Linked DNA regions of Homo sapiens. The protein of the gene in region 1 purifies or fractionates together with the protein of each later gene. This does not show direct contact. Each region holds a gene or a part of one and is shown in the gene's direction. Other genes may lie near its edges. The genes, in order: ABCC6, ALDH1A1, PHGDH, HSD17B4, GFPT1, MYDGF and PSAT1.

What was found.
Region 2: the proteins of ABCC6 (region 1) and ALDH1A1 purify together in Homo sapiens (affinity purification with mass spectrometry, with the first as the bait; one large-scale study listed by BioGRID). This does not show direct contact.
Region 3: the proteins of ABCC6 (region 1) and PHGDH purify together in Homo sapiens (affinity purification with mass spectrometry, with the first as the bait; one large-scale study listed by BioGRID). This does not show direct contact.
Region 4: the proteins of ABCC6 (region 1) and HSD17B4 purify together in Homo sapiens (affinity purification with mass spectrometry, with the first as the bait; one large-scale study listed by BioGRID). This does not show direct contact.
Region 5: the proteins of ABCC6 (region 1) and GFPT1 purify together in Homo sapiens (affinity purification with mass spectrometry, with the first as the bait; one large-scale study listed by BioGRID). This does not show direct contact.
Region 6: the proteins of ABCC6 (region 1) and MYDGF purify together in Homo sapiens (affinity purification with mass spectrometry, with the first as the bait; one large-scale study listed by BioGRID). This does not show direct contact.
Region 7: the proteins of ABCC6 (region 1) and PSAT1 purify together in Homo sapiens (affinity purification with mass spectrometry, with the first as the bait; one large-scale study listed by BioGRID). This does not show direct contact.

The regions. Positions count from the first base shown.
Region 1 is NC_000016.10:16,150,405-16,154,348, reverse strand, and holds part of ABCC6 (ATP-binding cassette sub-family C member 6), read left to right. Parts: intron 1-3,576; coding exon 3,577-3,771; intron 3,772-3,944.
Region 2 is NC_000009.12:72,925,393-72,929,336, reverse strand, and holds part of ALDH1A1 (aldehyde dehydrogenase 1A1), read left to right. Parts: intron 1-315; coding exon 316-445; intron 446-2,159; coding exon 2,160-2,221; intron 2,222-3,724; coding exon 3,725-3,853; intron 3,854-3,944. UniProt on the Homo sapiens protein: Cytosolic dehydrogenase that catalyzes the irreversible oxidation of a wide range of aldehydes to their corresponding carboxylic acid.
Region 3 is NC_000001.11:119,710,460-119,714,884, forward strand, and holds the start of PHGDH (D-3-phosphoglycerate dehydrogenase), read left to right. Parts: upstream 1-1,474; 5' UTR 1,475-1,563; coding exon 1,564-1,701; intron 1,702-2,271; exon of another isoform or gene 2,272-2,339; coding exon of another isoform or gene 2,340-2,399; intron 2,400-2,452; exon of another isoform or gene 2,453-3,001; intron 3,002-4,425. UniProt on the Homo sapiens protein: Catalyzes the reversible oxidation of 3-phospho-D-glycerate to 3-phosphonooxypyruvate, the first step of the phosphorylated L-serine biosynthesis pathway.
Region 4 is NC_000005.10:119,539,368-119,543,147, forward strand, and holds the end of HSD17B4 (peroxisomal multifunctional enzyme type 2), read left to right. Parts: intron 1-2,537; coding exon 2,538-2,627; 3' UTR 2,628-2,965; downstream 2,966-3,780. UniProt on the Homo sapiens protein: Bifunctional enzyme acting on the peroxisomal fatty acid beta-oxidation pathway.
Region 5 is NC_000002.12:69,380,574-69,384,517, reverse strand, and holds part of GFPT1 (glutamine--fructose-6-phosphate aminotransferase [isomerizing] 1), read left to right. Parts: intron 1-1,434; exon of another isoform or gene 1,435-1,512; coding exon of another isoform or gene 1,513-1,594; intron 1,595-3,944.
Region 6 is NC_000019.10:4,663,596-4,667,539, reverse strand, and holds part of MYDGF (myeloid-derived growth factor precursor), read left to right. Parts: intron 1-2,602; coding exon 2,603-2,664; intron 2,665-3,944. UniProt on the Homo sapiens protein: Bone marrow-derived monocyte and paracrine-acting protein that promotes cardiac myocyte survival and adaptive angiogenesis for cardiac protection and/or repair after myocardial infarction (MI).
Region 7 is NC_000009.12:78,295,363-78,300,004, forward strand, and holds the start of PSAT1 (phosphoserine aminotransferase), read left to right. Parts: upstream 1-1,762; 5' UTR 1,763-1,848; coding exon 1,849-1,908; intron 1,909-4,642. UniProt on the Homo sapiens protein: Involved in L-serine biosynthesis via the phosphorylated pathway, a three-step pathway converting the glycolytic intermediate 3-phospho-D-glycerate into L-serine.

The DNA.
Region 1 (3,944 bases):
TATTTATTTTGCTATGAAAATATTGTTTGATATCGGGTGGTAACCTCACCACTCACTGGGACTATAATATAGGATTTTTTTTTTTGGTAAATGTCAAGTGTGGACTGGGCACAGTGGCTCATGCCTGTAATCCCAGCACTTCAGGAGGCTGAGAGAGGAGGATTGCTTGAGCCCAGGAGTTCGAGACTAGTCTGGGCAACATAGCAAGACCCTATCTCTGTGGACAACAGTATTAGCCAGGTATGGTGGCATGCACCTGTAGTCCTAGTTACTTGGGAGGCTGAGGTGGGAAGAACGCTTGAGCCAGGGAGGCGAAGGTTGCAGTGAGCCGATATTGCACCACTGCACTCCATCCTGGGCTTCGTCTCAACAACAAAAAGCTGTGTGGAAAGATACACATAAAATTTACTATCTCAACCTTTTTTTTTTTTTTTCTTTTTCTTTGGAGACAGGGTCTGGCTCTGTCATTCAGGCTAGAGTGCAGTGGTGAGGTCAAGGCTCGCTGCAACCTCCACCTCCCAGGCTCAAGCATTCCTCCCACCTCAGCCTCCCGAGTAGCTGGGGTTACAGGTGTGAGCCACCAGGGCCAGGTAATCTTTTTATTTTTTGTAGAGACAGGGTTTCACCATGTTGCCCAGGCTACAGTCGAACTTGCGTAGGCCTCCCAAAGTGCTGGGATTACAGGTGTGAGCAGCCACGCCGGGCCCATCTCACCCATTTTTCAGTGTATAGTTTCTGTAGTGTTAGGTACATTCACACTGTTACACAACAGAACTACAACTCTGTACCCATGAAACCCTAACTCTCCTTGTCCCCTCCCCCAGCGCCCAGCCACCAGCATTCTCCTGTCTCTCTGAGTGTGACTACTCTAGACACTGCATAGACGCAGAATCATAGGATCTGTCCTTTTGTGACTGGCTTATTTCACACAGCATGATGTCTTCAAGGGTCATCCACATCGTAGCATGTGTCAGATTCTCTACCTTTTTAAGGCCGAATAATTTTCCACTACATGGATAGACCACATTTTGCTTATCCGTTTATCTGCCAGTAGATACCCAGGCTGTTTCCACCTCTTGGCCGTTTTGAATAATGCCACTATGAACATAGGTGTATAGGTATATGCCTTTAGAAAAACCAAAGTGGCTGGGCGCGGTGGCTCATGCCTGTAATCCTAGCACTATGGGAGGCCGAGGCGGGTGGATCACCTGAGGTCAGGAGTTCAAGACCAGCCTGACCAATATGGTGAAGCCCCGTCTCTACTAAAAATACAAAAATTAGCTGGGTGTGGCGGCAGGCGCCTGTAATCCCAGTTACGTGGGAGGCTAAGACACTGAGACAGGAGAATCGCTTGAACCCGGGAGGCAGAGGTTTCAGTGAGCCAAGATTGTGCCACTGCACTCCAGCCTGGGTGACAGAGTAAGACTCCGTCTCAAAAAAAACAAAAAAAAACCTAAGGTGTTCTGGATTTATAAACCCCTCTGACCCTGAGGGTGTCCGAAGGGCTTGTGGTAGGCAATAATTTCCAGCACTAGAGAGGCAGCGTTGCTTGGTGGGTAAGAGTATACACAGGTGACAGACTGCCTGGGCTCAAATCCAGGCCCCCCACCCCACACCCCCACCCCCGCCCCGCCCTGCCACTTACTAGCTGTAGGATCTTAGGCAACTTATCTTGTGTGCCTCAGTTTCCTCATCTGTAAGGTGGGAATAATAGCACCTACCTACCTTGCAAGGATTGAATTATATGCACAAAGTTGTTGAAACAGTGGCAGGCATAGAGCAAAGAGTAAATACTCATTTTAGTCCTGAGTCACACTCCTGATAACATCATTTCACAGAGTTGGAATTGGAGGCCTGGGGCTTGCCTGACGTCACACAGCTTAAAAGTAGTGAGGTTGGGACAAGACCCAGGCACTCTAACGCCTGCATGACCATAGTAGGTTCTGATCATGTAAAAGGATGCTGTTTCATGGAAGGGCTTACTGTGCAAGACAGCCATGCTGGGGCCCCAGGGGTCAGTTCCCACCTGGGTCAGGGGCTCACTGGGCTCACAACCTGGAATCTCAACTCCTCCACCCTCCACGAAGGGTGCTACTCCATGCCAAGGGCTTATTCTGTGACAAGCCTACACACTTTTTTTTTTTTTTTTTTTTTTTGAGACAGAGTCTTGCTCTGTCGCCCAGGCTGGAGTGCAGTGGCGCGATCTTGGCTCACTTGCAAGCTCTGCCTCCCGGGTTCACACCATTCTTCTGCCTCAGCCTCCTGAGTACCTGGGACTACAAGCGCCCGCCACCACGCCCGGCTAATTTTTTGTATTTTTAGTACATACAGGGTTTCACCGTGTTAGCCAGGATGGTCTCGATCTCCTGATCTCGTGATCCGCCCACCTCAGCCTCCCAAAGTGCTGGGATTACAGGTGTGAGCCGCCGTGCCCCGCCACCCACACACTTTTATGTGCCATGTCGTCACGATTCAGCGAGGACGGATCCATTAGGAGCACAGACTCTGGGGTCAGAGGACTTGGGTTCAAATTATGGACCCACCACTAGCCTTGAGACCTTGGTCAAGCCACTGAGCTTCTCTGTATCTGTGTCCTCTTCTCTCAAAAGAAGAGAACAATAATATCTACCTTGGTGGACATTATGAGGATTGAGTGAATATATACAAGCACTTAGAATGTGTTTGGCACAAGGTGGAAACTAGAAATAGAACTGGACATAGCCATAAACAGGCCAGGCACGGTGGATCACGCCTGGAATCCCACCCAGGTGTTGTACACATCTGTATTTAAGGCCCACGTGACACCAGCCTTGAATGTCTTAGGAAGACTGTAGATTTGATTCTTGAAGCAGCAGTCAGTCATTGTAGGTTTGTTTGCAACGGCATGACTGAAGTGAAAGCTGTGCTTTCGCTGTTGGGGGAAATATAAATTAGTACAGTCACTATGGAAAATAGTATGATGATTTCTCAAAAAACAAACTAGAAATAGAACTACCGGGGCGCAGTGGCTCACGCCTGTAATCCCAGCACTTTGGGAGGCTGAGGTAGGTGGATCACCTGAGAGTTTCAAACAAGTCGGACCAACATGGTGAAACCCCATCTCTACTTTAAAAATACAAAAGCCAGGCATGGTGGCGCATGACTGTAATTCCAGCTACTTGGGAGGCTGAGGCAGGAAAACTGCTTGAACCGGGAGGCAGAAGTTGCAGCGAGCTGAGATTGTGCCATTGCACGCCAGCCTGGGTGGCAGAGCAAGACTCCGTCTCAAAAAAAAAAAGAAAAACGAAGAAGAAAAAAAGAGCCATAAACAGAAAAAAGAAAATAGCCATTTCACAGGTGGGGAAACTGAGGCACAAAGGGTTTGAATGACCTGCCTACAGTCAGCCTGCTCAAAGATGGCAGGAACAGGCTTCCTATCAGTTCTGCAGACCACAGACCCCAGACCCCATGTGTGGGGATGCCTGAACACAGGCACCTCACTCCTGCACTGCTTCAGGGACCTGTTTCTGGGCACACCCACACATCACCATGTGCCGACAAACGCACGTCCCAGCTAATTGTCCCAATCGTTCCCAGCGTGGGCCAGAAACAGCTCCTGTGTCTGGCACGTGCCCTTCTCCGGAAGACCCAGATCCTCATCCTGGACGAGGCTACTGCTGCCGTGGACCCTGGCACGGAGCTGCAGATGCAGGCCATGCTCGGGAGCTGGTTTGCACAGTGCACTGTGCTGCTCATTGCCCACCGCCTGCGCTCCGTGATGGACTGTGCCCGGTAAGGCTCCCGCCCCGGCCTGACCTCACAGCAGCCCTGCAGTGGTGGGGGAAGGAGGCGGAGGCAGTCCTGGGCCACTGGGCTTCGGGTTAGAGCTGGAGGGGTCCTGAATGGGGCCAGAGCGGGAGGAATGCCCGGGAACACATGCCAAGTGGGAAAGCTGCCCAAGGACA
Region 2 (3,944 bases), on another chromosome or scaffold:
GGTTTCATTCTCAGATGTTATGTGTATATCAAATTGTGACCGATTCCTAGAAAGCTGGTTAGCAGGAGAACATCAAAATGAGATAGAAAGAGCACTGGGGTTTAGAAATCAGAATCTCACTACCCTTTGTGCCCAGATCTTGCTATTTGACCTAAAGGAAGTCATTTTAACTCTTAAAAAGTGGAGGTTAGACAAGATGACAAGATTTCTTCTATTTCAAAAATTCCCTAGCACATGATTGCTGAAAATATTTACTACATATTTTTAATCTAAAACTTATGGAATTTTAGATTTGGTGTTTGACATGTTTTTCAGACAATGGAGTCAATGAATGGTGGAAAACTCTATTCCAATGCATATCTGAATGATTTAGCAGGCTGCATCAAAACATTGCGCTACTGTGCAGGTTGGGCTGACAAGATCCAGGGCCGTACAATACCAATTGGTAAGTATCTTTGAGAAACCACTAATGGTGAGGATAGGAGCGAGGAGTTTACTATAGAGCTGAATAATTTCAAACTCTCCCTTTTAAAGATGTCAACCAAATAAGGCAAAATTATTTTCCTCTTGACTTTGAGACAACACAGTTTTCAACTTAGAAGTTCTATTAAAATTCATAAAAGGTCTTTTAAAGTTGTTTCAGCATAATCATGAAGATAACATTATAGATATTTTAGAAAATGTCAAAGTAAGAACATTCCTTTGGCAGTAATTACTGATCTGAGGCAATTGCCTCTCTAAGGTCCCAAACTTTTTAAAGCTGACCTCTGAAATTATTTATTTGGGTTTTATTCCAATACTGACATTTATATCCTTTCTGTAATGTAATTATTTAAGCCTCTTTACATGTTCCAGTATAAGTCAGTTATGGTCATCTGTGCCTGGTCAAACTCAGTGTAGTTAGACCAGACTAATCAAACAAGCCAGTTCACACGGACTCGTTTCAAATATCTTCAAAGCAAGATGGGACTGTGTTTGCAGCCTAAGTTAAGGGTTTGTGTGTGTGAATCTGTACGTATGTGTTATTTTAGTGGGGTATGCACATAATGGAGTAGAAATACTAAAGATATTTCATGTGAAACATGAAAACACACACATTTAGGAAACAGTATGGGTGGAATTTAATTCAGGCAAACCTATGAACTTTAGGAATACAATACCCTCCAGGACTGGCCCTGATGTGCACTTCCAATCCAATTGGAGCATGCAGGAGGTCAGAAGTGATAGCAGAAAGTTGAGAGGAGAGTAAGACCTCGGTGGTACTAAGAAATGTGGCTACTTTAGAACTGTCCTACTTTACTCCGGGACAAAATGGGAGAAGTCACTTAAAACACAAATAGATCTTGATGAAGAGAGTCCTTGCTGAAACCAGGAAGCTTCTGTGGGAACTAGAACAGAATTGAATGTAAAGCATAATGTATCTCTCTGGATGACCACATTAAACTTCGGGGCACATAAATTGGTCAAATTTAGATTGAAAATAAATGTCTTATACTCCTGTCATTTTCTTCATGTATTTAGAGAATTTGCTATTATTGTTTGGTAGGCAAATAAAATACATTTTAGAACAAGTCAGTAGGAAAGGCTTATTACTCATAGGGAGATTTTCTTTTTAATTCTACTGTTTTTAATTTTACTATTTCTAAAAATTATATTATAACTTTTAAAAAGAATTCTCTTATTGGTAGAACTTTGAGCTACCAGAAACAAATTGGAATGTGGTTCTTCTCTTCGCCAGAGACCTCCTACTTCCTTTCTCGTCCCTTTTTTATAACACTTAGAGAATAAAGATAATTTTCAAATCAGGCCTCCTAGAAGATGAAAGGTGGAATTAATTATCTTTCAGATTTTTGCCAATTTTGCCTCTTTGATTTCACCTAACTCAATTTTATGGTTCCTATCATTTCGAATTACTATTTTAGGGCTTCACTTACCATTTTGGGAATAGTTGGAGATATAGATGGTCTCGATCTCTTGACCTCGTGATCTGCCTGCCTCGGCCTCCCAAAGTGCTGGGATTACAGGCGTGAGCCACCACACCTGGCCAGATATATGTTTTTAAAATTATTGTCTACACCTTTCTCTCACATCACCAACCACCATTTTGTGAATGTCAAATACATTTGTTTATATATGATTGTGTGTGTTTTATTTTTCAGATGGAAATTTTTTTACATATACAAGACATGAACCTATTGGTGTATGTGGCCAAATCATTCCTGTAAGCTTTTCTCCTATATAATTCTCAATTTTAAAAAGAAGAGTTCTTATTCTATCTAATGATGAAGCTTTCTCTAAAACAGATGGATGCTTATGTATTTGTTAAATGTGGAGTAAATGTAAGATTTGTTGAACTTGGTCTCCCTGTGACTAAACTTCTTGCATATGAATTAGGTAGTCCGAAAACCTATCTATATTCTGGCATATCTCTTGAGAATGTTTTAATACTACATCATCCATAAATGTTAACCCTTTACTCTATGGGTTGTTTTATTAAAAGTTGTATTATGTACTCTTTATAAGAGCCAAGCTTTACATGTATATGGCAAGGTGCTCTCCACTGCACATCTGCAGGATAGCATTTTGGTGGAATGTAGTGGGGCCTACTATTCTCCAACGCACTTTCTCATTGAGACATCTCATCATGCAGAACAGTAGCTCCCAGAGTGTTCAACTCATGACACACATTTTTTAATCAAAATGGAAAAAAGAATACCAGAGGCATTTGAAGCACTGCATGGAATATATTTTACCTTTAGATAAGAGGCTCAGATCCTCCATATTACTCTTAGAGGAAAGTAGCCTTTTTAAGAGGATTGTGAAGATTTTTTAAGCCCAACAAACAGGACACTATCTAAATGATTTTATTTTAACTGACATGCTTTAAAAGGCCAAACAAAAAAATGGTAGCGAAGTCCTTATGTGAAGAAATGGTCAAGACTTATCTTTGGCTCCAATGAGATTGAAATATATTCATATCAATATTTTAGTGAAATTGCTTATTAATTCAAAAGTCCCAATAAATCGATAAAAACTATATAATTATGAACACTGATAATAGCTGATATGTACTACTTGTCTATGCTAGACCAGTCATTGTGTTGAGCCCCTGGCCCTCTTTCTTGGTTAATGCTCAAGACAGCCTTCTGAGGCAGAGAGGACTATTATCAGCACTCACAGATTATGAAATCAGATACAGAGAGCACGTAACCTGTGTGAGTTCACATGGCTGGTCAGTGATTGAGCTGAGATTTGAACCCAAGTACTTGGCCTCTGGACCCTGGACATCTTTGTCTTTAGCAAGGTATTTTTCCTGGAAATAAAAGCTACTAAATAATATTATTGGGTAAATAATTACAATAAATGACTTATGGAGAAGGAGAGTAATCATCCTTTTTAAACATTTTTAGATAACTTACAGTGTGCTCCATAATAAGCCAAACCATGCAGTGATTTTTTTTTTCCTGGTAGAAAAAGAACTCAACAGTACTTGATTAAATTTTGAGGTTCTCTCCTATTTCCTTCTCATATCTCATATCTGGTTTATTCAGAGCGTTTTAGCATTTACTAGTTGCTTTTAGCAATGAAGTATAATATGCCAGATGATTTCACAAAACTACGCAATTATTACATAACATCTACAGGGGGTGTATAATATGGAAGTTGGATTAGCAAATATGCCTTTTGCAATACAAAGAATCTATTGTTACATATTGCTTTCTAGTGGAATTTCCCGTTGGTTATGCTCATTTGGAAGATAGGGCCTGCACTGAGCTGTGGAAACACAGTGGTTGTCAAACCAGCAGAGCAAACTCCTCTCACTGCTCTCCACGTGGCATCTTTAATAAAAGAGGTAAGTCTCCCGAAATCAAAATATGCTCAAGAACTCAAGAATCCTAAATTACAATAGGAAGACCTCATTTGTTGCTACTATAAAGTACATT
Region 3 (4,425 bases), on another chromosome or scaffold:
TGATAGACAATTTTTTTTTTTACCCACTGAGGACATTGTGTCTAAAAATCTGATTTGTGCCCAGGAATTATCTGTATAGAATTTTCATTACTTTATAGAATTGATATTGCATAGTTCTGTAGGATAAGGATCTAGCACTTGAGTTATGAATAGCTCAGGATGACATAACACACAATGGTTAGTTGGACTGGATATGTCCATAAAGCTGAATTCTAATTCAACTATGAGCATCTCTGATTCTGCTTCTGATTCTAGGTGACTTTAATCCCAAATTGAATTTTCTGACATTTCTGTAAAATGGGGCATGAGAGAGCACGTCGGTTATGGGGTTTAAATATAAAAGAGTTAAGAGCTGAGAAGTGCCTCCTTGGTCAATTAAACCACACTGACATCCCGTTTTCCTTTTCTTCTTTTTCATAATTAGAGAGGAAGTGGAGGGAAAGGAAATAAATAACTTTAACAAAGTATGCCTAGTTTAAATGCACCAGGTCCCCGCTCTTTTATAAACTCATAATTCTCATTGCATCACTAATTTGAAATTAATCACAGCTCCTTGGTGTCTCAGAAAGCTTCCTATTGCTTTTCACTACGTAACTTTCCAAGTCTGTGTGTTTGGTACTCTAGGATGTTAGGCCACCAGAGGAAAGAGGATGTATCTTTTTTTTTTTTATACTTTAAGTTTTAGGGTACATGTGCACAATGCGCAGGTTAGTTACATATGTATACATGTGCCATGCTGGTGTGCTGCACCCATTAACTCGTCATTTAGCATTAGGTATATCTCCTAATGCTATCCCTCCCCCCCTCCCCCCACCCCACAACAGTCCCCAGAGTGTGATGTTCCCCTTCCTGTGTCCATGTGTTCTCATTGTTCAATTCCCACCTATGAGTGAGAATATGCGGTGTTTGGTTTTTTGTTCTTGCGATAGTTTACTGAGAATGATGATTTCCAATTTCATCCATGTCCCTACAAAGGACATGAACTCATCATTTTTTATGGCTGCATAGTATTCCATGGTGTATATGTGCCATATTTTCTTAATCCAGTCTATCATTGTTGGACATTTTCTTTTTGATAGTCGAATTCCCTTCAACGTCTAGCACAGTGCCTTGCACATTTACCCACTCAAAAAAAATTTCGTAAGGAATTAATAAATGAATCCTTAGGAGGAAAAGTGAAAATGAAGTTTTTCTCTCAGGATGAGGTGTATTTCTCCGTTCATTTCAGATATGCATCAGCTAGTCAGCGTAAATTGTGCTTTTTATATGCTCACCAGGTGTAGGTAAGAGCTTTGGCTGAGATGGAGAAATTCATCGCGGGAGGATAATAAAGCGGGCAGGGATTTGGCAACCTCAGAGCCGCGAGGAGGAGGCGGAGTCGCGGAGAGTTTGAGTATTTCCGTCCAATCAAAAGGAGACTGTAAGAGGAGGAGGAGGAGGAGATGACTGGGGAGCGGGAGCTGGAGAATACTGCCCAGTTACTCTAGCGCGCCAGGCCGAACCGCAGCTTCTTGGCTTAGGTACTTCTACTCACAGCGGCCGATTCCGAGGCCAACTCCAGCAATGGCTTTTGCAAATCTGCGGAAAGTGCTCATCAGTGACAGCCTGGACCCTTGCTGCCGGAAGATCTTGCAAGATGGAGGGCTGCAGGTGGTGGAAAAGCAGAACCTTAGCAAAGAGGAGCTGATAGCGGAGCTGCAGGTAAGGCGAGAGAGAGAAAATTGAGGTCTCTAGGGCAACCTCCATGGAAAAAGGCTGGCTGCGCCCAGGCCAGCGCGCCCCCCTCGCATGCACCCCGTATCAATTAGTTCCGGGGCCTCCTGAGATTGGGGGGTAGAGAAGAACGGGGGCGGGAGGAGGCAGAAAGAGGGAAGAACAAACGGCGGCGAGATGCAAACTTTTCTTTTAGTTTGCAACCGCGTCTTTCACGTTGGCATGCCTCCGCTAGCATTGCAAAGTGCGGGCTGCTCCAACTGGTCCTGCAGGCTGCTCGCGGATGCCAGCGCGGGATGCCAGCGCGGCGCCCCAGCGCCTTAGCGCGCAATTGTTCTGGCAGCCTCGCGCCGCCTCTCCCCCAACCCCCAACCGCCTCCGCGCGGGGCGATCGGGAGAGGGGCCCCAAAGTGGCTTCTTTGCGGGGAACCCAGGGACTGGCGATTCTTCCCAACCAAGTTCTGGGCCGCCCCGCCGATTCTAGCCTGCCTTGGCGGTGGCGGGGTTGGGGGGGTCGGGGGGCGGGGGGAAGCTGGCGGAGACCCAACCAGTCTGGTGGCTGCTGGGGCAGCTGGAGGGGAAGGCAGCCCTCGTAAGGCAGCAAACACGTACCCGCCCCTCGTCTGATGCAAGACTGCTCCGTGCTTTCGCCGCCCCTCTGCCTCCTGGGAGCCTTCGGAGGAAAGGGAGGCGGGCGGGGAGCGCTGGGGTCCAGATTTAGCCTCCTCCCCACCTTTGGTTTATCGCTGGTTGGGAGTGACCAGACTCGACTAGAATCCGATCCCAAACGCTCCCAGATGATTTATAGTCTTAGCAAATTTTTATCTCCTTTTGTTGTGATATATAATTAATCTACTTCAAATCTTTATCCACCGTGTTTGAAAAGGCCTGCTGGGCCTGGTGGCCTTGTCCGGAATATTTATTTTGTGAACTCTTCACTCCAGTGCCTGCACTTTCGACCTCTGTAGTCGACCCAGCTGCCCAGTCTCTACCTCACCTGATCCAGTATATTCTCCCCCACCCTCCAAATCGCACAACCGCCTTCTGCCCGCCTCAGCCCTGTCCACCACCTTCAGCCGTCTCCTCCTCCGAGGACCCCTTAGACCGCAGAGGCTGCTGTTGTTGCTTTAGTTGTGCCACAACCACGTGGTCCTGGAAACTGCCTCGCTCACTTTGTCTGCCTTTGTATCTGCTGGCGTGGATCTTGTCACCATGGCATGACACTATATCCAAGTATCCAGCTCTGCCCTGTACTCAGAAGAATTTGGTCCCTGCCTTCAAGAAGTTTGTAAGCTGGTTAGGGAGCATGGCTAATACGCAGGAGACAGTTGAGCAGATGACACAAGAGCATAGCCCCGAATTAGACCATCCAGCTCCCTAACCTTTGCGTGTTCCCCTTCTGGAAAAGCCAGAGAAAGGTCCAATCATCATGCACAGAATTGGTGGGCAAGGGCTTAGGACTTGAGTAGGATTGGACGGGTGGCAGGCTCCTCACATCTGTCACCTCCTTTCTTGTGTGAAATTGTATCAGTGGCTCTGGGGAACAACCAGGAAAGGCAGTGGGGTGTCCTGCAGAACAGCCTCTGACTCTCACCTCCACCAGAGCACCAGGTTGGGAAGAGGGTGGCAATCAAGTGCTTTCACCTCTCTAAAGGAAATTAGAAACCTGATACCCCAGTGAGGGGGTGGGGATAGGGAGGGATGAGGGCAGAATTGAGAGGAATGGGAGGCCTCATCCATAATGAGGGGTTGTTCCATGAAGTCAGGAATCAGCTGGGTGGATGCTGGGAGTCTGGTGCTGAAACTTGGAGAACATTTTAAAGGCGCTGAAAACTCTTGGCAGGAGAGGAGGAGTGTTTGTTGGCTAACTTGACTGCTGGGCATTTTTGGACTGTTTGGGAGGGCTCAGCTTTCTTGTCTGTCTTTGCAACACATTTGGTTCAGAATGCCAATTAATCTCCTTGGTCAGCCCACTGAAGGGTCCTCATTTCTACACTATGCCTTTTTATTCTGCATGAAGAGGTGTCTGGCATAGTGTCTCCTGCCCTCCCCCACTGAAGTCTCTTTAATGCTGAAGGAAGCTTCGGCAGCGTTGCTAGAACCGGGCCTGGCCTTGGTTCCCACTGCCTTGTATTCTGGGCAGGCGGTCTCCTCTCACTCACCCCCTGGTCAGGAAGTACAATCATTCCTCCCTGCCCTTTCAGTGGTGCTTTTCAGACTTGGAGCAAGTCATAGTTCAGTTTAAGGGGTCATGACGAGCATTTTAAAAAACAAAGTAGGAAATATCAGACAGCAATGCAGATAGATAGTAAGGTTGTAAGTATTGTTTCATGAATTTTGTTTCATTTATGTTGTGTAGTTGTATGTGTGTGGCATGTGAGTATGAAATTACAACTTAAAAATGTGTTTCTTGGCCGGGCGCGGTGGCTCACGCCTGTAATCCCAACACTTTGGGAGGGGCCAAAGGAGGCAGATCATTTGAACTGAGGAGGTTGAGACCAGACTGGGCAACATGGCAAAACCCTGTCTCTACAAAAAATACGAACATTAGCTAAGCATCTTGCACAAGCCTGTAGTCTCAGCTACTGGGGGATGGGGTGGAGGGCTGAGGCCCTGGTTGCTGTCACTCTTCCCAACCTGGTGCTCTAGTGGGAGGATCGCTTGAGCCTAGGAGTTTGAGGCTGCAGTAAGCCATGATCTCGCCACTGCAAT
Region 4 (3,780 bases), on another chromosome or scaffold:
TGGGAATTGAACAATGAGAACACCTGGACAGAGGGTGGGGAACATCACACACGGGGACCTGTCATGGGGTTGGGGGAGGGGGGGAGGGATAGCATTAGGAGATATACCTAATGCTAAATGACGAGTTAACGGGTGCAGCACACCAACATGGCACATGTATACATATGTAACAAACCTGCGCATTGTGCACATGTACCCTAGAACTTAAAGTATAATAATAATAATAAAAAAGAAGAAGTGGACAAAAGGTATGGAACAATAATTAATGAAATAAATAGAAATGACTAACATACAAAAGAAAAAAATTTTTCCCAGTATCCAAAAATACAAATTAAAGCATGTTATTTTTGCCTCATATTTTCAAAGTGTAAGAAAATAGTATTTTTAAGGTTGGGATAAGATAATTTACACACAACTGGAGGGAATATAAAATTGGTATAGGCCAGGGACAATGTCTCGTGCCTGTAGTTCCAGCACTTTGGGAGGCCAAGGCAGGAGGATTGCTTGAGTCCAGGAGTTTGAGCCTGGGTGAGACAGTGAGACCCTGTCTCTACCAAAAAAAAAAAAAAAAAAAAATTAGCCTGGTGTGGTGGCACACACCTGTAGTCCCAGCTACTTGAGAGGCTGAGTTGGGAGGATCACTTGAGCCCAGGAGGCTTAGGCTGCAGTGAGTGTGATCATGCAGCTGTAGCCTGGGTGACAGAGCAAGACCCTGTGTCAATCAATCAGTAGTTGGTATAGCCTTTCTGGAAAGCACAGTGCTTCCAGACCTTCTTCCTTTATGGCAGTTTATAGTCTTACTACTTTTTGCATGGCACTCCTAGGCCAAACCATATACCTAACAGTTTCATTTATGAAGTAGTTCAAAACAATTAGTTTTTTGTGTTCAACCAGTATGACTGTATTTCCCTCCCAAATTAACAGTATTGGGAAAGTGTCCCTGAGAGAGTTTGCTGTGATGTCCGGTGCATGGCAGTGCAGAGTTTGGAAACTGGCAATATGGACGTATGGTTAAGGGCTTTAAGAAATAAGAAAATAGATAGGAGGAAAGATTTATGTACAAAATTCTTCTGCTCAAAAATGTCCAAAATTGATATTTTTACTTCTAGTAATTAGGTGTTCTTGTTTTAGGTTGTAAATCTCTTTCAGAGTTTAGTACATAGCAGGCTGGCCTAAGTACTGACTCCTTCCCTGCATGAGTTGCAGACCATCGTTTTGTTTGTTTGTTTTTTGTAACTGCATAGTGAAAGAAATCTTAGTTTTGAAATTCTGGTCTCCTGTTTGAATGCATTTGATTGTGACTGAATGAGCTCTCTCTGACTATTTCTGGAATAAAAAGTTGTTGCCTTTTCTCCAGTTCACGAGGGTTTGCTTCTGAGACTAAGTGCTGCTCGTTAACAAGTATTGTTAACAAGCATTGCTGAGCAAAGAACACCTGAGTTTAAGCCCTGGCCCTACTTCTTGCTGGCTCTGTAGACTTGAGCAGGTTATTTAATAAGCTCTCTGAAATTCAGTTTCTCATCTGTCAACTGGGGTAAGAACTGCTGATGTGCCCACTTCAAATTGACAGCTGTAATTCTTAAATGAGATTATATTTGTGGAGCTGCTTTGTAATGCTCAGTGTATGTAGGTATCACTATTTTTTCCATTTAGCTAGAAATCTAGAGGCTTTTTCACTTCATATTTTATGTAAGCTATAAAAACTATGATTGATTATTTTTATTTTACTGATAGGGAATTTACACTGAAGGAGAACTTAAGGAACTTGCACCAGTTTCTGTATCAGGTTAGATACAAAACTGCTACAGGAACCCTTCGTTTTTAACACACCAGCTTTTGCTTGGTAATGATGAATTAATACTCTCTTATCACATGTCAAACTACTAAGCTAAGCACTCTACACATTACTTTATTTAACACGCACAACAGAGTTGTGTTATTTAGGGACTGTTGTTATGCCTTTTATAGATGAGGAGATTGAAACTCACAGAGGCCACGTATCTAAGCATTTTCTCAAGCTCACCTTGCTATTAAGGGGCACAGCCTGGATTTTAACTCAGGCATTCTGATGCTACAGCTGTGATCTATTCAACATTGTGTTATATTCTCTAATTTGTCATTTCGTGGCTTTCTAGTTCATGAAACTGTAGTAAATATTTTAAATCTGCTTTTAGAAGTTCTGAATTGAATATTTTTATTAGGAATACAGTGTAGCCTTTTATTAATATGGTCTCAAATTGTAAGAACATAAAGTAAAGCCAGAAACGTAGGTTGAAACAGAACTCCCAGATCCATGAGTTCAGATAAATTATTGTATAGTTTTCTAAAATACACAGGAATGATTTTTCTTTTTTTTAGATGTCTAAAAAAATGTGCTATCTGTAGTTATTAAATTGTCATTGCTAAATAAAGGTTGCCTTTGTTGTCCAGAATTATTAGCTCAATTGTATTCAGTCTGAATAATCTTAAAAAAAAAAAAAAGAAATAAACTATAACATGGTAACAGTTGGCACTCTTTTTCCCTCCTCTCCTTGCAGGCATTCTTTAGTGGCAGGCTGAAGGCCAGAGGGAACATCATGCTGAGCCAGAAACTTCAGATGATTCTTAAAGACTACGCCAAGCTCTGAAGGGCACACTACACTATTAATAAAAATGGAATCATTAAATACTCTCTTCACCCAAATATGCTTGATTATTCTGCAAAAGTGATTAGAACTAAGATGCAGGGGAAATTGCTTAACATTTTCAGATATCAGATAACTGCAGATTTTCATTTTCTACTAATTTTTCATGTATCATTATTTTTACAAGGAACTATATATAAGCTAGCACATAATTATCCTTCTGTTCTTAGATCTGTATCTTCATAATAAAAAATTTTGCCCAAGTCCTGTTTCCTTAGAATTTGTGATAGCATTGATAAGTTGAAAGGAAAATTAAATCAATAAAGGCCTTTGATACCTTTGTTTTTTTGTGATTTTCTGTTTTTTTATTTATTGATACCCCAGTTTTTATGTGAATTTCCATGTATGCACTCATTTTTCATACTTTGTTCTGATAGTATTCTCTTTTAAAGCAAGAGAAAAGTCTTTGTGCTCCCAAATAGTTTTCTTTCTTCTCCCCTCCCCTTTGCTGGAAATTCTTTACTACATATAATGTTTATAAATCTACCAAGTGTAGCTTTCTTGAAGAATCAGCAGTCTCAAAACAGAAAGATAGTCACTAGCAAGTACTGCCACATCACTGTTTTCCTCAGCATTTAGCTCTGATGAAGTGCACTGGGAGATGCTCTTTGGATGAGTTGGCTGCAGAGGTGACCAGCAGCAGGTGGTATGCTAAGCTCAGAGATGGAGTAAATTTCAATCAGGTAACACAGCTGAGGAGAATATGTGTGGGTGGCTAGTATGGGCTGAGTTTCCCAGGAAGCTGACTTTCAGATGGAGATTCATGTGCAGGAAGTTGATTTGGGAGGTGCTTTTATGAGCAGCACCTGCCAGGAGAAGCAAAGGAAGCAGAGCTGGGCAGATGGAGACATTAGGCTGTGGTTGCAGTTACCATAAGGCCTGGACTGATCTTTTGGGGAGCTCTGAAGCTGGGATGGCCATTCAGAATTGTCCTGAGGCAAGTAGTCATTGGTTATGACCTGCCCTGCAAGGGGGCCATGACCTTGGTCAAAGCGGCAGAGCAATTCCTGGAGTTGGCTTGCCCAGCAGTTGGGGGAATATGTCTTTTTTTTTTTCCTTAAAACTTTTAAGTTCAGGGGTACATGTGCAGGATGTA
Region 5 (3,944 bases), on another chromosome or scaffold:
CTGGTCTGCTGACCTCAGGTAATCCACCTACCACAGCCTCCCAAAGTGCTGGGATTACAGGAGTGAGCCACCTTACCCGGCCCTAGTTAAATTTGCCTAAAAGATTATTTTATTTCAACGTTGTGCATTGTTGAAGCAGAAGAATGAGGATTGAAGATTCTGATGTGCTTTTTTTCAATCAGATATACTGATAAAATTGATATGTTTACCAGCTTGTATTGGGATGTTAATAAGTGTTAGGAAAAAAGATCCTCTGGTCCAGTAAATTTGGGAAGCAACATATTAAATCGCGTGGTAATGTTTTGTTTTGTTTTTTGATTGGAGGATTTCTTGGAATCTTTAATGTATTAATAATAAGCATTGAGAATCTCCCAGAGAAGAATAGTGTGTCTATTTTCCAAATTTATTTTATCTTCCTTTTTCTTGGTAGTTTGGAATATACTTTGTCCTTTTTATTTGCATTATTTTTGGTTTTGCTGAGTGTCAAGTCACTTAAGCTATCCCTAGCTTTTAACAGATTTTGCTATTGTTTTTATAAATGTGAAGTTATACCCTTCTGATTCGACGGTGTATATAAAATGGAATTTTGGGGATGGGCGCGGTGGCTCACGCCTGCAATCCCAGCACTTTGGGAGGCTGAGGTGGGTGGATCACCTGAGGTCAGGAGTTTGAGACCAGCCTGACCAACATGGTGAAACCCTGTCTCTACTAAAAATCCAAAAAAATTAGCCGGGCGTAGTGGCGCATGCCTGTAATCCTAGTTACTCGGAAGCCCGAGGCAGGAGAATCTCTTGAACCCAGGAGGTGGAGGTTGCAGTGAGCTGAGATAGTGCCATTCTACTCCAGCCTGGGCGACAAGAGTGAGAGACTGTCTCAAAATAAATAAATAAATAAGTAAATAAATAAATAAATAAATGGAATGTTTGCAAATGAGATCCTTTTTAAAAGCAGTAAAGGAACTTGCAATTTTAAAGTATCCTAAAATGAATTTTTCAAAAGTTTTTTGTAATTATACTGTCTAATGGCTTTGGAGATAATTGAGGGATGCTGAGATTGGCTGCTAGGATTGGTCATAAAACCAGTACTATTAACATATCCTTACATATACTGGATATGAAGAAGTTGTGAGAGAAAATAATTGCTTAATAAGCATTTCTTCAATTGTCCCCTGGAAATGGAGGTTAATAGGTTCTGGTAATGAGCAGTAGAAGGCGGGAAAGGGTTTTGTAACACAAGTTTGGGAAATTCTGCTCTTGGAGATTCACAATTAGCAAGATTAAAGGTTCCAGAAAGTTCTAAATATATACCTAACTTTAACCAGGTAGTTCTTAAACCTTTAATTATGAAACCTTTCTTTACTTCATTCCTTTTTAGCATCCGGTGAAATAGTGTTCTGTTTCTGTGGTTTGAGAATTTTTTGACCGTATATTTCAGGTGCCTAGAAAGTGTTAGAAGATACTTGCAGGTATTTGAAATGATGGCTTTATACTTGGCACTCTGCCCTTTGCAGAGATGACTAAAATAAGAGAGTTGCCTTCAAGAAATTGCTGCCTGATCAGAGGAAAGAAAATGAATGCACATGCAACAGCTTCAGGTGAAAATACACAGTCCTTGTTCATTGCCATGTCATAGACCACAAGTAGAATGAGTAGAAATTTAGAGACTGGAGAGCTCTGGGGTTTGGGTTTCTGTGTTAGGTTCAGGAATGTTCTGGGTGATGGGGCAGGACTTTTACTCAACTTGTAGAGTATTAGTATACTGTGAGAGGTAATCATTAATGGCATATGTTAACCGTCAGTGAATGGAGGCGGAAATAGTTTGAGAACTACTACCAGATGAAGGAGGAAATAGAAGTGCCAGGAAAACAGACCAAGGAACAGTGGTTAAAGGCAGAAGAGTTCCAAAGTAGTATATTGCCTTGAACAGAGTCTATAAAAGTAGAAAAAGGTCATTCATATGTAATACTGCAGAGAAGTTAATTGGATATGGTTATGAAGAAATTATTAGAGAAATTGCATATGTCAAGGCAGAAGGGTCTCAGTTTGTGTTTAGGAGGAGGGCTGCAAGTAATATGAAAAAGAAGAGGATTTTGGGATTGAGGTCCCCTGGGAGTGTTGAGAAGTTGAATTCTAGAGCTGTGGTTCCTGACCTACAAGCCCTGAAGTTGTTACAGGGTGTTCATTGCTTATTCATATGCTTATAACTTTGTCTGTAAGTTGAATAAAGATTGTTCTAGATCATTGAATAATAAAAATTTAACCCATTGTTGTGAAGGAGCCTCAGAATATTTTGATGTTAACAAAAGAGTTCTGTATTTACAAAGTTGGAGAAACACTCATCAAGAGTTAGGAGTAAGGCCCAGTGTGGGGTTCCCTCTGGTAATACCAGCATTTTGGGAGGCTGAGGTGGGCGAATCACTTGAGGTCAGGAGTTTGAGACCAGCCTGGCCAACATAGCGAAGCCCCATCTCTACTAAAAATACAAAAATTAGCCAGCTGTTGTGGTACGCACCTGTAATCCCAGCTACTTGGGAGGCTAAGGGAGGAGAAGTGCTTGGACCTGGGAGGTGAAGGTTGCAGTGAGCTGAGAACACGCCACTGTACCCCAGCCTGGGTGACTGAGTGACACTCTGTCTCAATTAAAAAAAAAAAAAAGAGTTATAAGTAGCCAGTGTTTTGGCTTACACCTGTAATCCCAGCCACTCAGGAAGCTGAGGCAGGAGGATTGCTTGACGCTAGGAGTTCAAGATCAGCCCGGGCAACATAGTGAGATCCCATCTCTATTAAAAAAAAAAAAATTAGCCAGGCATGGTGGTGCATACCTGTAGTCCAGTCTACTTAGAAGACTGAGGTGGGAGGATTGAGTCCAGGAGTTTGAGGCTGCAGTGAGCTATGATTGTGCTGCTGCACTCCAGCCTGGGTACTGGGTGACAGAGCAGGACTGTTAAAAAAAAAAAAAAAAGTTACAAGTAGGGGAGAGGCTAGCTTCAGAGAGTAGTATGTGTAATATGTCTCTCTTGAGATTACAAGGAAGGATGAGAAGTATTTATATATTGTTAAACTGTTGAAAAGAAGATGGGTGAGGGGCAGTGACTCATGCTTGTGAACTCAGCATTTTGGGAGGCTGAGGTGGGAGGATCACTTGAGGCTTGGAGTTTGATACCAGCCCGGACAGCATATTGAGACCTTGTCTCTATATTTTAAAAACAAAAAAAGAAAATGAAGACTTTAATTCTGGCCAGGCGCAGTGGCTCACGCCTATAATCCCAGCACTTTGGGAGGCCGAGGCGGGCAGATCACCTGAGGTCAGGAGTTCGAGACCAGCCTGGCCAGCGTGGTGAAACCCTGTCACTGCTAAAAATACAAAAATTAGCCAGGCGTGGTAACACACGCCTGTAATCCCAGCTGCTGCTCAAGAGGCTGAGGCGGGAGAATCGCTTGAACTCAGGAGGTGGAGGTTGCAGTGAGCTGAGATAGCGCCACTGCCCTCCAGCCTGGGTGACAGAACGAGACTCTGTCTAAAAAAAAAAAAGACTTTAATTCTATAAAGTAAGAATCTACCAAAAATGAAAAAGAAGCTGGGAAGAGAAAATGAGGATTTGAGAGTAGTATGTAGCTTAGACTCTAAAATAATATCTGGGAGAAGTTTGAAAGTTAAGCAAGTGATGAATTAATAGGATTGGTCAGCAGTTCGGAGGGCCCATCCGAAAGTGGACCGAAATGGATAGGATAGATGAGTTCTCCTTGGCTGTCATAGTTCAGTGTAGAGATGCTCAGAGACTAGGAGTCAGAGCACAGTGGACCCAGAGGGTTTGACTTGGCAGTATGATGAAAAATTGTAGTCTGATGTGAATGGTCAGAAGAGAGAGAGATGGAATATTTGAAGATTGTGAGCAGGAAGTACATGCTTTTTTTTCTCAAGAAAGATGATGACATAGGTTGACT
Region 6 (3,944 bases), on another chromosome or scaffold:
AGCACTTTGGGAGGCCAAGGCTGGCGAATCACCTGAAGTCAGGAGCTCCAGACCAGCCTGGCCAACATGGTGAAACCCCGTCTCTACTAAAACTACAAAAATTAGCCGGGCGAGCCAGGCGCACTGGCTCATGCCTGTAATCCCAGCACTTTGGGAGGCCGAGGCGGGTGGATCACAAGGTCAGGAGATCGAGACCATCCTGGCTAACACGGTGAAACCCCGTCTCTACTAAAAATACAAAAAATTAGCCGGGTGTTTTGGTGGGCACCTGTAGTCCCAGCTACTGGGGAGGCTGAGGCAGGAGAATGGCGTGAACCCGGGAGGCGGAGCTTGCAGCGAGCCAAGATCGCGCCACTGCACTCCATCCTGGGCGACAGAGCGAGACTCTGTCTCAAAAAAAAAAAAAAAAAAAAAAAAAGGGTGATTTGAAGCACATGGACACATACGCCACTGCTGCCCTTGAGGGAACTGCAGGGCAGGGAATACACGCGGCCTCTAGGAGCTGAGAACAGCCTCTGGCTGGCAGCAAGGAAATGAAGACTTCAGTCCCGCAACCAAGAGGAACTGAAATCTGCCACAACCACAAGAGCTTGGAAGAGGACCTTGAGCTACCAGTAAGAGCCTAGCCCGGTCAACACCTTGAGATGGGTTTCGCCATGTTGGCCAGGCTGATCTTGAACTGCTGACCTCAAATGATCAGCCTGCCTCGGCCTCCCAAAGTGCTGGGATTACAGGTGTGAGCCACCGGTGCCCGGCCTCCTAGAGATTTTTCTGTATCCTATGTAAAGCGCTTCAGTTGCATGGACGTGTGGAGTTGACAATCCCGTACTAATGGATTGAGGGTTACTTCCAACCCAGTCCGTGAATAACCTTGGCCAGGGTTCATTGTACAAGTGCAGTTACATCTGTGGGAAAACCACCCAGAAGTGGGATTCATGGGTCCATTTTCTTAAAAGTAAAACTGGGCTGGGCGCGGTGGCTCACGCCTGTAATCCCAGCACTTTGAGAGGCCAAGGCAGGTGGATCGCCTGAGGTTGGGAGTTTGAGACCAGCCTTGCTAAGATGGTGAAACCCCATCTCTACTGAAAATACAAAAGTTAGCAGGGCGTGGTGGCACGCGCCTGTAATCCCAGCTACTCAGGAGGCTGAGGCAGGAGAATCGCTTGAACCCACGAGGCAGAGGTTGCAGTGAGCTGAGATCGCACCACTGCACTCCAGCCTGGGTGACAGAGCGAGACTCCATCTCAAAAAAAAAAAAAAAAGTAAAACTGTATGTTTTGAGATCATGGTAGATTTACATTCACTTGTAAGAAATCCTACAGAGAGATCCAAGTACCGTTTAACCAGGTTCCCCGGTGGTAACATCGTGCAAGAGGCCAGTCATTTTAGAGATGGGGTCTCGCTATGTTGCCCAGGCTGGTCTCGAACTCTTGGGTTCAAGTGATCATCCCACGTTGGCCTCCCAAAGTGCTGGGATTACAGGCATGAGCCACCATGCCCAGCCTGCATTTTCCATTTTGCTTGTACCTGTTGCAGCTCCACCGACAACCTGGAATAGTCTTGGTTTTCACACCCATATGGTGTGTTAGCAGACAGGAGGGCTTTTGCCCTTCTGACCTGGGAGAAAAAGGTATCTCACGATAGTTCAGCTTGTGTTTATTTATTTTTCATAAATGATATGGGACATCTTTTTTTTTTTTTTTTTTTTTTTTTTTTTTTGAGACAGAGTCTCGCTCTGTCGCCCAGGCTGGAGTGCAGTGGCGCGATCTCAGCTCACTGCAAGCTCCGCCTCCCGGGTACACGCCATTCTCCTGCCTTAGCCTCCCGAGTAGCTGGGACTACAGGCGCCCACCACTGCGCTCGGCTAATTTTTTGTATTTTTAGTAGAGATGGGGTTTCATCATGTTAGCCAGGATGGTCTTGATCTCCTGACCTCGTGATCTGCCTGCCTCGGCCTCCCAAAGTGCTGGGATTACAGGCGTGAGCCACCGCGCCCGGCCTGGACATCTATTTATATGTTTAAGAGTTGTTCTTAGGCCTGGCATGGTGGCTTATATCTGTAATCTCAGCACTTTGGGAGGCCAAGGTGGGAGGATTGCTTGAGGCCAGGAGGTTGAGACCAGCCTGGGCAATATGGCAAGACAGTGATTCTACAAAACACAAAAATTAGCTGGGTGTGGTCCCAGCTACTTGGGAGGCTGAGGTGGGAGGATCGCTTGAGCCCAGGAGGTAGAGGTTGCAGTGAGGCGAGATCGTGCCACTGCACGCCAGCCCAGGCCACAGAGAGAGACTCCATCTCAAAAACAAACAAACAAACAAACAAACAGCGTTGTTCCTATTTCCCCATCCGTGGGAGCCACTTTGGGGTAGTTCTCATTAGAGGCACCACTTTTATGGGAAGGATGTGGTGCAGGCAGGCTCCCTGATCACAGATGACAGCAAACCCCAGGCCACCAGGAGGGCGGGGCAGGGGATTTAGTGGCCAGCCCCTGAATCGGGAGGTACAGAAGAGGTGGCCTGACTGTAGAATCAGAGGCACACCTAGAAGTCTCCGAGAGCAGCTGTGTGTCCGGGGCTGACCCGCGCTGTCTTCTCTCCCCAGCAATGGCAGATGAGTCTGGGGACCAGCGAAGACCACCAGCACTTCACCTGCACCATCTGGAGGTGAGACTCGGGGTGGGGATGGCATTTCCGGCTGCCGTTGGCCTGCCCTGTGGCCTCAGGAGCTGCTTTGGAAGGCAGGGAACGAGGGCTGCACCCCTGGAGGGGAAGACAGACCAGCAGGGAGACTCATGCACGTGCAGGTGGGGGGTGGCAGGGTCGCTGGGGTGGGAGTGCTCCCCAAGGAAGTGCACTGATGCAGAGACTGAGAAGGTCTGGGGGAGACGGGGGGAGCCTGTGCGGGGCAAGGTCCCAGGAAAAGGAGAAGCAGCTCAGAGGGTGCGGAGCGTGGACCAGGGCCCAGGAAGGCCCCAAGGGGCTCCACCCTCCCCTAAGGGTGAGACGAACTCACCAAAGGGCTTTTTGGCAATTTTTTTTTTTTTTTTTTTGAGATGGAGTCTCCATCTTTTGCCCGGGCTGTAGTGCAGTGGAGCAATCTTGGCTCACTGCAGCCTCCGCCTCCTGGGTTCAAGCGATTCTCCTCCCTCAGCCTCCTGAGTAGCTGGGATTACAGGCGTGTGCCACCATGCCTGACCCTTTTTGGCAATGTTTAAAAACTGAGATAAAATTCCATAAAGCACAGCATTTTAAGCTCACAATTCAGCTGCATGGAGTACTTTCTCAGAGGTGTGCAGCCAGACCTCTGCTTCCAGAACATTTTCATCCCCTGAAAATAAACTCTGTTCCCATCAGAGTCATTCTCCTTCCCAGCACATGGCAGCCACGCATCCCCCTCCTGTCTCTGTGGATGGGCGTGTCCTGGACATTGCATAGAAATGGGGTCAAACCTTCCCTGTGTGGCCTTTGGTGTCTGGCGTCTCTCACTGAACGTGACGTCCTCAAGGCTCATCCATGCTGAGGCCCGTGTCAGCCTCATTTCTTTTCCTGGCTGAGTCCTATTCCAGAGGGCTCCCTGCAGGAACATGTGGAGCTCAGATCCCCCCGGCTGAAGGAGGCAGGCTGAGGCAGGGAGCCCCTCCAGGCACCAACCAGGATGGAGTCGGGGGTTGGGGGTGGGGCGCAGATTGAAGCCTGTGCAGAATGAGGATGGGGTGGGTGGAGAGGGCACAGATTGGAGGCTGTGTAGAATGAGGATGGGGTGGGTGGGGAGGGTAGATTGGAGGCTTTGTAGAATGAGGATGGGGTGGGTGGGGAGAGCACAGATTGGAGACTGTGTAGAATGAGGACAGGGTGGGTGGGGAGGGTATACTGGAGGCTGTAGAATGAGGATGAGGTGGGGAGGGTAGATTGGAGGCTGTAGAATGAGGATGGGGTGGGTGGGG
Region 7 (4,642 bases), on another chromosome or scaffold:
CTGCAGGACCCCCGGGAGGAATGGCTGCAGGGGATGTCTTAGCAGATGAGACAATAGCCACCGCCACCCCACCCCAAATTCCTGTGCCCCTAGTGGGATACAGAAGTAGTAGGTTGCTCATCAACCCAAGCAGCCACATCAGCTTGGGCAGTGGAAACAACTCAGCCATATCTTTTGGGAACAGAGGACCAAATGGATGTGCTGTCCCTTCTCCCAACCCACTACATGGGACTGTGTATAGCCCTGGTGTTAGGAACTAACTCCAGGAAGGATGAAGGCTGACTCCCTTAGTCTCCAGTAGATAAGCTGCTAGGGGCAGCTACTAATATATAATAACTGAGTTATTTACGTAAAATAATGGATATGTGATGCTTCTTGCATGCCTGAGTTTCTGGGCTGAGATTTATTCTGTCTTGAATGTCGCGGTTTTCTTAATGAAGTTGCTGAGGAACGCAGGGGCCTTGTTCATTTTGCCTTTTTCTGGAAACTTTGTCCTCCAATTCCCAGATCCAGAGCAGTGCCTCTGCTCTCAGCCCCATACCGCCCACATTCTCATTAGGAAAAGCAAACAAAAGCCAAAGTCCTGTCCAGTTACAAGCCTTCTCTAAACGGGGCAGTTGGACTGTATATATTCCTGGCGCATCAATTTTACTCAGACAGGGAAAATATTTTTACATTAAAAGAAACTAGGTTAAATTATGGTAGAGAATGCAAAATTCACAGTTTAAAAATGATGAAATTCCAGACTTCAAAGGAACTTCTTTCTTGCAGGGTAGGGGGAGGGTATTCTGTTTCAGAACCCCATGCGGGTCTCCACTGGAGTTCTTTTGAGAAGGACACTTCTGTGGAAAAGTTTGAGCAGCTCTGGCCCTGCGCCTGGCCTGGCTAGGGGCCACCTTCTTCTGGTTTGGGCTGCAGCGCCCTATGGGTATCGCGTTCTTGTTAATATCTCCTCACGTTTCTAAACTCACAGCTTGTCAGCGCGGGCGCAACCTGAGAGCTGTCGCAGGTTTCCAGCTCACTCGTTTCCCAAAGGAGGAAATGGAGAATCAGCGACTTTAAAGGACTTGCCTGGCGGGCATCCACGCTTCCCAGGCTATCGCTCCTCCCTGCGTCCTTGGCCACCTCCGTTCTTTAATCCTGCAGGAACTCAGGACCCACGTGCAAATACAAAGAACCGTATCCACCCACCCCCGGCCCTTCTTCATCCTGCGCTTCCAACCTTGGGGGGGTCCTCTCTCTCCACTGGGGTATCTGACGCCCGTGGGGGGTGCTTAGAAAAGTTTGGTAGATTAGTGACTGGTGGTTCTGGAACAAATACATCACAGCCCAAACTGGGGGCTGGTGGTGGAGAGGTGGGTGGATGGGGGCTACAAATCTGCTCGGCAACTGCCCTTTCAGCCAAGAGAGAGGAGCTGAGGTCCTCTGGGGTTGGAGGACTGGAACCGGCCAGATTGCGGGCTCAAGGGGCGAAGGCAGGTTGGCAGGGGCAGCCTCTTCCCGCCGCCCACAATCCTCGGGCGGGCGCGCAGCCGAGCCGGCTCGGCTGGCTGGCGCAATCTCGCGCGCTCCTTGCATTGATCAAAAATGGGGGTTGAAACAGTAAACGCGAGGAGGAGCAACTGCTTCGACTCGGCTCAGAAGCGCGACCAATGGGGATGTGAGCTCCTTCGCGCGAACCAATTAGCGCAGGGCCTGCGACAGCACGGGCCAATGGGGCGCCGACTCGGCGCAGGAACAAGGCGGGGGTTCGGGGCCGGCTGCAGACTCTCACCGCAGCGGCCAGGAACGCCAGCCGTTCACGCGTTCGGTCCTCCTTGGCTGACTCACCGCCCTGGCCGCCGCACCATGGACGCCCCCAGGCAGGTGGTCAACTTTGGGCCTGGTCCCGCCAAGCTGCCGCACTCAGTAAGTCCCCGCGAGCGGGCGCCGGGAGTGAGGTTCAGGCGGGAGCACGCACGCGGGTGGGTTTGCATCCCTGCGTGTGGCAGTCGGATTCCCGCTCCCTGCCTTGAGTCCCCTAGGCGCTTTGCATCAGCGTGCACAGCGGGATCAGCAGCTCCGGCAAGCGGGCTTCGGGAAGAATGCAGTTGGTGAGGAAGCTCGGCGAGGCGTGCCCGTGCAGCTGCCCCTGGCCCTGACTGCTGGTGCGAGGCAGTGCACGACTCAGCTGGCCGGGGCCTGCTGTCCCGCCGGTGCCACGCACCTGCAGACGCCCGGGCTGTGCCATCTCCTGGGCCGGTCCGGGGGCTGGGGCGGGGCGAAAAAGAAAAAGCTCTGATCTCTGCCTTCGCCTCGCGCAGCTGTGCGGCGAGCCCGGGCAGTGTGGAGCGGATGCATGAATGGACATAGTGTGAATGAGTGATGAACGGGAATGAACCGATGACAGGTTTTGCATATGCAGTGGATCACGTTAGCTGAAAGGGATTGCAAACTTAAAGGTCCGCGTGTGCGTGCCCCCCTACGCCTTACACCAGTGTTTGCTTTAGCCAGCACTTAGGAACACTGCTTTTCAGAAATGTAAATTTGAAAACCTTCAGTCCAGCTTTCCCCTCCTTGTCCCCCATAGAACCTACCCTTTCCTAAAGCCTTTCTCCCCACCCCCCTCCTTTTTTTAACCTGCTTGTCCCCTAAAGGCGTTCGAGTATTCTAACTCTGGTAGACTTTGGGCTGCTTAACCCAATTCCCTGTTCATTTCGTTCTGGAGTAAACCGAGTGATTGAATTCTCTCCCGGGCCACAATCAGATCTTGCTGGTGGAACTCACTCTCTGCCTTCCCAGGCCCCAGCCCGGCTCCTCCCCTCCCCCGCCAAACCCACCGTCCCCAGCCCCACCCGCAGTGAAGAAGGCAAAGTCTCCGATGTGCCTTGAGCCCATTGTCAGGCGGCTGCCGCCGCCGTTAGATTTTTATTTTTCTAACCAGGATAGAGCTGATAATATGTTGGAGCAGCATGAGGCATAGCCAAGTATTTTACAATTATCAATTGTTGAGCAGAGTAGAAATCTCCCTGGGACAGAGCCTCCTCTGTGTTGTGGTAAGAACAGAGAATCCAATTTTAAAGGGGAAAGGACTTCTTACTTTTCTAGGGGCAGCGCTCACAGTAGCTGAGAGGACAGGGCTTATTTTTTCTCAGTGGTTACAGTTCATTTTAGGCGAGATTCCCTGCTCCAGCTGTGGAGATGTTTCCTGTAGCCTCCTCCTGCACCCCCCATGTTTTGGAGTGTTCCCAACGTTTGTTCCCTATGTATTTCGTTATTAATTTATTACTATAATTGTAATGGCAATTGTCATCAGTAATACAATTATTTGTTATTAATTTTTCTGGGAGGATTTTTGCCCTTGGACTGCATGTAACCTGGGGGGCAGGAGGGTGAGGGGGCAGGCAGATGTTGCTTTTTATGTATTTCCTTGATTTAGTTGAATTGTAAATATTAGAGAAGCTTTCAAACTTCTTTTGACTGTAACCTACAGTGAAAAACATGTTTACAAAATGACAAAGTATACACATTCAATTGTAACAAAAATAAATGCCTTATGAAATGATGTGTAGCCTAATTACCTGTGACATACACTATTTTGTATTCTATCCTGCTCTAGTCTGTTCTGTTTCATTAAAAAAATTAGTCGTGAGCTGGGTGTGGTGGCGCACGCCTGTAATCCAAGCAACTCAGGAGGCTAAGGTGGGAGGATCTCTTGAGCCCAGGAGTTTGAGGCTGTAGTGAACTGTGATTGTCCCACTGCATTCCAGGCTGGGTGATAGAGCAAGACCCTGTCTCTTAACAAAAAAAAAAAAAAAAAAAAAAAAAAAATTGGTTATGATCCACAAAAGCAATGCATTCTTCAACTGGAAAAAAAAAAACCTACTGGATTAGGGAGGTGTGATTTTTCAGTAGGAGTCTTTAAAACTGTTTGTAATTATTTTGGTTATAAACTTTTATAGAACTATTTTCAATGAATGCTGTCTATAAGAAAGATACAGTCTCAGGAGCAAGTTCAAAGATTATTCACAGATGAATGTTTCTCTTTACTAAAAGAAAAGATTCACTCTATTTTATTTGATCAGCTGGTGCTAACAAGCATCCAACATTTCAGAAAACAATAACACATTCTTAGACCCAGTCGTCAAGGCAGTCTTTTTTTTAATCTAATTCTTTTTTTTTTTTTTTTTTGAGAGAAGTCAAGCTCTGTCACGAGGCTGGAGTGCAGTCGCTTGGTCTCGGCTCACTGAAACCTCCGCCTCCCGGGTTCCAGCGATTCTTCTGCCTCCGCCTCCTGAGTAACTGGGATTACAGGCACCCACCACCAAGCCCAGCTAATTTTTGTATTTTTAGTAGAGACGGGGTTTCACCATGTTGGCCAAGATGGTCTCAATCTCTTGACCTCATGATCTGCCCGCCTTGGCCTCCCAAAGTGCTGGGATTACAGGCGTGAGCCACCACGCCCGGCCTTGTCTAATTCTTTATTGTTAAAATACTGTTTTTTGAGACAAGTTGCAATCCAGTTTAGGTTATAGCTGTGTTTTAATGATGCCCTCCTTAGCAAGCATCTTAAAAAAAAAGGTGCCTCCTATCTGTAGACCTTCTCTGGCTGGTTGCTTTTGCACTTATTTTGTGTTCATTTTTAAAGCTTTTCTTTTTCTCT